Regions from separate parts of the Homo sapiens genome. Here region 1 is linked to region 2. The links come from fine-mapping of genetic effects on gene expression. A gene starts in region 2. The other region holds a variant in brackets. All regions are shown on one strand. Distances are from middle to middle.

What was found. PIP is the estimated chance that this variant, and not a neighbour inherited with it, causes the effect. A credible set is the group of variants that fine-mapping cannot tell apart.
Region 1: its variant is the best candidate, but not a certain one, in a credible set for the expression of NAA16 in whole blood (INTERVAL, PIP 0.56).

What each region holds. Positions count from the first base shown.
Region 1 is chr13:41,336,444-41,340,843 of GRCh38, reverse strand. NAA16 (N-alpha-acetyltransferase 16, NatA auxiliary subunit) reads right to left here. Exons shown (of 20, transcript NM_024561.5): 9 at 4,088-4,194. Among named protein-coding and RNA genes, the nearest start is that of NAA16, 27 kb to the right of the region's middle. The variant A/G (reference allele first, on the strand shown) is at 2,640.
Region 2 is chr13:41,309,200-41,313,599 of GRCh38, reverse strand. It overlaps NAA16 (N-alpha-acetyltransferase 16, NatA auxiliary subunit), which reads right to left and starts at 2,333. Exons shown (of 20, transcript NM_024561.5): 1 at 2,018-2,333. The coding sequence starts at 2,071. It also overlaps a transcript of MTRF1 not described here.

The sequences.
Region 1 (4,400 bases), 27 kb before region 2:
TTAGCCGGGCACGGTGGCAGGCGCCTGCAGTCCCGGCTGATCTGGAGACTGAGGCAGGAGAATGGCGTGAACCCGGGAGGCGGAGCTTGCAGTGAGCCGAGATCGCACCACTGCACTCCAGCCTGGGCGCAATGAGAGAGACTCCGTCTCGGAAAAAAAAAAAAAAAAAAAAAAAAAAAAAAAAAAAAAAAAAAAACTCACTCAAAACCGCACAACTATATGGAAACTGAACAACCTGCTCCTGAATGACTACTGGGTAAATAACAAAATGAAGGCAGAAATAAAGATGTTCTTTGAAACCAACGAGAACAAAGACAAAACATACCACGATCTCTGGGACACATTTAAAGCAGTGTGTAGAGGGAAATTTATAGCACTAAATACCCACAAGAAAAGCAGGAAAGATCTAAAATCGACACCTTAACATCGCAATTAAAAGAACTAGAGAAGCAAGGGCAAACAAATTCAAAAGCTAGCAGAAGGCAATAACTAACTAAGATCAGAGGAGAACTGAAGGAAATACAGACACAAAAAACCCTTCAAAAAAATCAATGAATCCAAGAGCTGGTTTTTTGAAAAGATCAACAAAATGGAGAGACCCCAAAGCCTCACTCAAAGACTGGCAATTTTTTTTAAGTACTTTTCAAAACAAGTAAGCAAATGTATATCATCTCAGCAAGTTATCTGTTATGGACAGGACACCTATATAATGGATAATAAGAAACAAAACAATATTAACTTTAACAAAATCTAACTTAAAAGGGATATAAATATATTTTTAGTAATATTTTATTCTTATTTATAAAAGACAAGAACACCTTGATATCAGAGTTTATAGAAGATTCTATTTCAACATTAAAGAAAGCTGGGAAAATGAGAATTTCTCCTTTTCTTCACCAAAGATTTCTCCAAAACCTCACTGACAAAAGTAAAATGAGTGCCATTTCAAATACCTACCTATGTTTTTAAAAACCTTATGCAACTTAGTCGGGCACAGTGGCTCACACCTGTAATCCCAGCACTTTAGGAGGCCAAAGTGGGTGAATCACTTAAGGCCAGAGTTTGAGACCACCCTGGTCAACATCATGAAACCCTGTCTCTACTAAAAATACAAAAAATTAGCTGGGCATGGTGACAGGCACCTGTATTCCCAAGCTACTTGGGAGACTGAGGCAGGAGAATCGTTTGAACCCGGAAGGCGGAGGTTGCAGTGAGCCGAGATTGCACCACTGCACTCTAGCCTGGGCGACAGAGTGGGACTCCATCTCAAAAAAACAAAAACAAAACAAACAAACAAAAAAAAGTTATGGAATTTGTCTGACAACCACTCATTGCCTTCCACTCTACCCAAACTCTAGTTTGCCAAAAAAATTTAAATGCTGGAGACATTTAAGAAATACATTTCGGCCAGGCGCGGTGGCTCACGCCTGTAATCCCAGCACTTTGGGAGGCCGAGGTGGGCAGATCACCTGAGGTCAGGAGTTCAAGACCAACCTGACCAACGTGGAGAAACCTCGTCTTTACTAAAAATACAAAATTAGCCGGGCGTGGTGGCACATGCCTGTAATCCCAGCTACTCGGGAGGCTGAGGCAGGAGATTTGCTTGAATTGGGAGGCAGAGGTTTCGGTGAGGCGAGATTATGCCATTGCACTCCAGCCTGGGCAACAAGAGCGAAACTCTGACTCAAAAACAAACAAACAAACAAACAAACAACAACAACAAAAACAAGAAATACATTTCTTGCAACTGTACTACATTCTAAACTAACTTCAAAAGACAATTTCATTTTCATGATACCAACATGAATTACTCTTTAATATTTGGAAACTTACAAACAATAGCTGTTTGTCATACTTCACCTCCTTGAAATCCTTCCTCGAAAGTTAAAAATCCAGCTAACTACTAAAAACAGGTCTTACTGCTGCTTAGAAATGTGCAGTTTTTAAAATGGCTTCCTGGGGTGCAGTGCACACTGCTCAGGCGATGGGTGTACCAAAAATCTCAGAAATCACCACTAAAGAACTTATCTGTGTAACCAAACACCACCTACTCCCCAAAATCTATTGAAATAATTTTTTTGAAACTACAAAAAAAGTCAAACACAAAACTTACAAAATTTAATTGAAAAATAAATATTAAAAAATAAAATAAATAAAATGGTCTCATGAGTAAATCACAGATACATGTGGCCAAAATTATTTGAGAAACAGTTCTTAGACTTGCAAATTTTTTCTCACTATACTAAATTCAGATAACTGGAGCTCAATTTTCTGCAGTTTAATTCATTTTGCAAACACACTTGGTGTTCTGGCATTTCTAATAATATAGCATTCCTGTTGCTTGCTTTAAAATTAACACTAAAGAGATGGTTCCTGTATGAATTAGTGTATTCTCAGTGCCTTATTCAAAAACATAATTTTCATGCTTTATATAAAATACCAAAAAAAAAGTTTAGCATTTTTGTAATGGCAACTTTGGATCAATATTAGAAGAATTTTTAAAAAGTAAAAAGCCTATGCCTATGAACAACACCCTGTGAAAGCCCCGTGATAGCTTAAGAGAAACAAATCCTTTAATGTCCACTGTAGTCAGTAGCTGCTGCAATACTGTTATAAAAGAAGTACTCTAATTCACATAC[A/G]TAAGATTTCTTTTTATTTCTGGCATTTCATCTAACCTTTCTTCTCTGTCACCCTCACCAAAAAGAACAAAAGAATTTTACCCAATGTTAAATAATCTAGAGAAATTATTGGCAGGCACCGGGTACATGTTTACACAGAAATCAATCACTATCTCTCAAAAAACTGACAACAGAAACACTGCAGTCAAATAGACCATACAACAGACATTAAGGAATTGTAAGGGTTTTTTGGGTTTTTTTGTTTTTTTTAACATAAATGATGTTTTTTTCTAACTGGGTACTAGATATCATCAGTTGTTTCTTTTGTTTATGAAACCTGCTGCCACAGGTAGGAAAATGCCAATCAGCTATATCTATAACTGATGTTTCCAACATTGTATTATTCACAATTACTGCAAATTTACAAATTATTATGAATCAAAGCTAAATAAATATGACAGAAGCTTAACTAAAATTTTTTTGGCATTTCTAATAAAATCTTTTCCTTATCCAGTAGTAACTTTAAAAAACTGACTATAGAAAAGACAACAAGATTTTAGACTTTAATAAGAAGCAACACTTGGAAATAAAAGTATAACTTGCTTTCTATTAACTTTTAATTATCTTTCTAATTTAAGACCAAGATTTAAGTGCCTATTTTCGAAATTTTTTTTTTTTTTTTTGAGACGGAGTCTCGCTCTGTCACTCAGGCTGGAGTGCAGTGGCGCGATCTCGGCTCACTTCAAGCTCTGCCTCCCAGGTTCACACCATTCTCCTGCCTCAAGCTTCCGGGTAGCTGGGACTACAGGCGCCCACCACCACGCCCGGCTAATTTTTTGTATTCTTACTAGAGATGGGGTTTCACCGTGTTCGCCAGGATAGTCTCAATTTCCTGACCTCGCGATCTGCCTACCTCAGCCTCCCAAAGTGCTAGGATTACAGGCATGAGCCACCACACCTGGCCTATTTTCTAATTTTAAAAAGCAGAAAGACAATTCTTTATTCAAGAACTAGCTAAACCTGTATTTATTAAAATGTAGCCTACTGATTAAACCTAGTAATTTGTACCAGTAATTTGACCAAATTGCATTTTACTGTTGCACTAACTCAATTATCCAAGCTCTAACTTTAAAAGCATGCATAACTAATTTAAAAATCCATAACTGTACCATAAAATAATAATCACAAAATAAATATATACCTTTGGTAACAATGTCAAATTTAAAATCCTACTAAAAAAAAGTATACCTATTAAAAATAAACAACCTTTATAATCTTAGTGCTTTCATAAACCCTTTACTTTGATATTACTTATACTACAGGCATGTAATTTCAGTACATGACTGAAAGTAAGGTAACATTACTGAAACAAAGAAAATGATTAAGTAATAGCACATTATTTACATGGACATCTTTCTACAGTTTAGTAAAAAAGACTATAGCAAATCTGAATAAATACCAAATTTTACCTTTTCTGTATTGTAATATAAAGATTTCAAAGTAGTAAACAAGGGTGGGCAGCCTTTACTGAAGTTAACCCTCAGGAACTTATCCATTAGTTCTCTAAATCTTTCACCTAGAAACAAAAGCGTACTTTGTTATTCTTTGGTTCACGCAAACAATTCTTAAAATGATTTTCTAAATAAAAATAAAGCTCCCTCAGAAGCAATTATGCTCCTATCCAATTTATAAACCCAAAAAGTCATAGTTTTAAGTAAAAGTTATCAACTATCCATTCTGAATTTAGCACAATATCAAATATCTTTCCTAATCTCTCACTGA
Region 2 (4,400 bases):
GTTTGAATTTTTTCAATAGAAAAAATTTTACTGTTGGTGGCAAAGCACTTTAATCCACTAAACTTTAAAGATAATTTTATTACAGAGACTTCTGTTTGCTATGGAATTTGTTGTAGCCAAATTTTACCCACATTTATTGCAATTGTGAAATGATAAAATCATTCGTTTATGCAGAATCCTCCTAAATTCACGCAACCTTGTCAGAAACATTACATACCTAGATTTAAAAATGTTTAGCTTGGCTGAGCACAGTAGCTCACATCTGTAATCCCAGCAATTTGGGAGGCTGAGGTGGGAAGATCGCTTCAAGCCAGGAATTCGACAGTAGCCTGGCCAACAAACCGAGACTTCCATCTCAAAATAATTGATTTTTTTTTAGTGGTTACCATTTCCCAATTTATTTGGGGATAAACCCTACCTTTTTTGTAATTTAAGAATAATAATGTAACTTTTTCCTTATGACACTGATCCATGATTTGAACTACAAAAAACTCGTATAAAGAGAAAAGAAGTGCTGTCATCTTTAAAGTATGATGCCAAATGTCCTGAAATCCAACTAGCGATTTATAAATGATATTATCATTAATGTTTCAGATTCCCAGGGCAAAAAAAAATTAAAAATAAAAATAAATAAATTACTTCTCCAATTCCATGCTGTGTAAAATAAAAGGGCATGAGAAGTAAAATAAAAAAATACAAAGCCCAATGAAGCAACCTGCCACGTGCTTTAATTATTCGTATTTTTAATGTTCTCACATTTGTATCTTATTATTGGTTCAAAACTAAGCACCACATAATATTTAAAATTTTTATCCCATCTACTATGTATCCTAATCTGAAGACTAAGTGTGAAGTTTCTATCGTCTTGAAACAGAACAGCTACTATGAATTATCTGCCGCTGTTCATACTTAAAATTACTCTAAAATTAGTATTTTATTTATAGTAAAGTTAAGCAACAACTAACAGCCATATAGCCAACCCAGCTTTCAATAAATTCACCTTTAAACCTAAATGCATGTTTAGCAAATAAAAGCTTTTTTTCAGGTGAAAAGATAAACTAGAAAAGACAGTTACCTACTAACAATATTAGTTTAAAACCTAGGGTAGCCAGAGGATACTGAGGAAAGCAAAGGAATGCTGCCTCTTCTCCTTGGAAGAACAGAACCTGGAAAGCTACCAGGGACGCTGGCACACAGCCCACAGAAAACTGCCCACCCGGCTCCGCAGCGGTCATCACTACGGGGCCATTATTCAGGCTTCTGCTCCGCGATAAAGTAAAAATGCTCCCCTCAAATGCAAAACCAGCCAGTCCACGCGGCTTTAATTACTCAAGCAAGGCCTGTGCGACTAAAAAGCAAACAGCTGTTTTGAAGTTGGTGACAACTCAGAAACGCACTTCAAGTCAAATATTCACTTCCAAAGAGGTAAATAAGGTACATTACAAACAGGCAAACTTTTTCCCAAAGGGAGGTGGTGCCAGGCCTGGCTTCCTAAAGTTGCCGGTTTTATTTCCTCGTAACCAGGAAAAATTCCACCATCGCATCGATCCCGCTTTAATAGGTATGCGGGTGTGCTGTGCAATCTAACTAAACGCAAAGCAGAGAATGCAGAACGCAAAACACCTAGCCGAGGAGAGACTGGCAAAATAAACCACCGGGGGAGGATCCCTGAGGGGCTGCTGCGAGCCCGGCGCGGCAGAGAGCACGGCAGCCACTACCGGCCGAGGCGGCTGTGCCCGGGCACTGCGGAGAGCGGCGTGAAGTTTCTGGAAAGAGCGCGGCGGGGGTGAGGCGAGCCGCAGAAGACCGCGGAAAGGAAGCGCACGGAGGAGCGGCTCGGCAGCCCCCGTGGGCCGGCCGGAGCGGGAAAGTGGGGTCCCGCGACCTCCGAGGTAAACAAAGAGCGGTGGGCAGCGGAGGCCAAGCCTGGCCCGCGCCGGCCGCCGCCAGACCGCTTGCCCTTAAGGCCCGAGGACCCGGGGACCGGGGGGCGGCAGCGCGGCCTACGGCCACTCACCAAGATGCGTTTGAAGAGGTTGCTCTCCTTGGGCGGCAGCAGCACGTTCGGCATCGTGGCCGGCAGGGAGGCTAGGTGGCCGGCAGGGAGGCTAGGTGCCCGGGCGCTCCGCTTCGCGGGGGTGGGCACCGGGACGAACCGCTGCTGAGAGTCGGGCTGCGGGCGATGGATTAGTTCATTGGTCTACAGTTGCAATTGGGCAGCCTGGCTGTTCGGCACGGGTGGCAATGGAGAAGGAAGGCGGTCTGAGCAGGACACGCTTCCCCTGGGCTCCGCTTTTTGGCCAGCGGCGGCGGCGGCGGTTCCCGCGCACTGCAAGATGGCAGCCAGGGTCCGCCTCCCGAGCCGGATCCTGTGCGCATGCGCGGAGCGCCCTTTGGCGAGGGGCTGCGGGTGACTACGGGGGCGTAGCGGGGACCAACCGCGTGGATTTGCCTTGTGCTGCGGCTCTCCTCGCCGCAATCTCGGCACCCCCTGGGGCTCAGGCGAGCTGTCACCAAAACCTTGGAGTCCCATGGGGTGGTGAGTCACCACCCTCATTCACCATTGCTCCTATGCATCAGAACGCCTCATAAGACTCCTACTTATTGTCTGCTTCTCCTTGCAATAAAGTAATAAATAAAAACGAGAATTTTCTTTTAAGTAGAAAAGAGAAGACACTGACTTGTATTGCACTCTTGATAAGCTTGTGGCGCAAGATAATGTTAGTTATGACTCTGAAGAGTCAGAGTTTTTTGCATTTCTCCCCATTTAGGAATTTAAGTGTCCGATGCAAAGTAGACTTTTGATGAAAGATGAACTTGTTTTCTTTCCTTTTCCTCCTTGATTCAGACTCTAAGTAGAAGCCTTCTCTTTCCAGGGCAAACCAAACAAACATTTACAATCTTTGTTTTTGTTTGGTTGGTTGGTTTTGAGATGGAGTATCGCTCTTGTCGCCCAGGCTGCAGTGCAGTGGCGCTATCTGGGCTCACTGCAACCTCCGCCTCCTGAGTTCAAAGGATTCTCCTGCCTCAGCCTCCCGAGTGGCTGGGATTACAGGCATGCGCCACCACACCCGGCTAATTTTGTATTTTTAGTAGAGACAGGCTTTCACCATGTTGGCCAGGATGGTCTTGATCTCTTGACCTCGTGATCCGCCCCCGCGTCAACCTCCGAAAGTGCTGGGATTACAGGCGTGAGCCACCACACCTGGCCGGAATTACGGTTTTATAAGGCCACTGGTCTTCTGAGTCTACCTACCCTTTCTCTTCAGATGGTTCCCCTTCCTGAAAGCCATATAATAATGGGAGAAACAGGCTTCAAATTCAGGATCTTCCAACTCTGGGATACTCTCTACAACAAATAAAAGGCAGCATATTGATGGTAATGTGTGAGTCTAGAAAGATACAACAGTGGCAAGAATAAACCATACATTCAGTGTAGGGTTAGTAGTAAGGTGTGTGTAAACATTAGGTACATAAGTTTATTTATACATGTGCTGAATCTTAATGGGTGCATATTTCTGAGACTATAAAGTAATTGATGAGTAACTGCATTTAGTCGGCTGTAATCAGAACTGGGCTGCCCTTTTTTATTTTCCTTTTTTTGAGACGATGTTTTGTTCTTGTTGCCGAGGCTGGAATGCAATGGCGCTATCTCAGCTCCCTGTAACCTCCGCCTCCCAGGTTCAAGCGATTCTCCTGCCTCAGCCTCCCAAGTAGCAGGGATGACAGGCATGCACCACCACACCTGGCTAATTTAGTATTTTTAGTAGAGACGGGGTTTCTCCATGTTGGTCAGGCTGGTCTCAAACTCCCGACCTCAGGTGATCTGCCCACCTCGGCCTTCCAAAGTGCTGGGATTACAGGTGTGAGCCACAGTGCCTGCCTATTTGATTTTCCTTCTTTCTAGCCTAAGTTGGTTGGACATGAAAGAATCATAGGAGTCTTTTTTTTTCTTTCAATCTCCTACGTTTCACACATGATTTTAAAGCATCATAGGAGTCCTTTAAAATAGGGAAAGTACTGTCATTAAAATTGGGGGTCCACAGCAATCCCATTGCTGGGTATATACCCAAAAGAATATAAATTGTTCTACCGTAAAGACACATGCACAGCCAGGTGCAGTGACTCACGCCTGTAATCCCAGCACTTTGGGCGGCTGAGGCAGGCGGATCACCCTGAGCTCAGGAGTTGGAGACCAGCCGGGGCAACATGGCAAACACACACACACACACACACACACACACACACACACACACACTAGCTGGGCATAGTGGCGAGTGCCTGTAGTCCCAGCTACTTGGGATGCTGAGGTGCGAGGATCAATTGAGCCTGGGAGACAGGTTGCAGTGAGCCAAGATCATGCCACTGCACTCCAGCCTGGGCAACAAACTGCCTCAAAA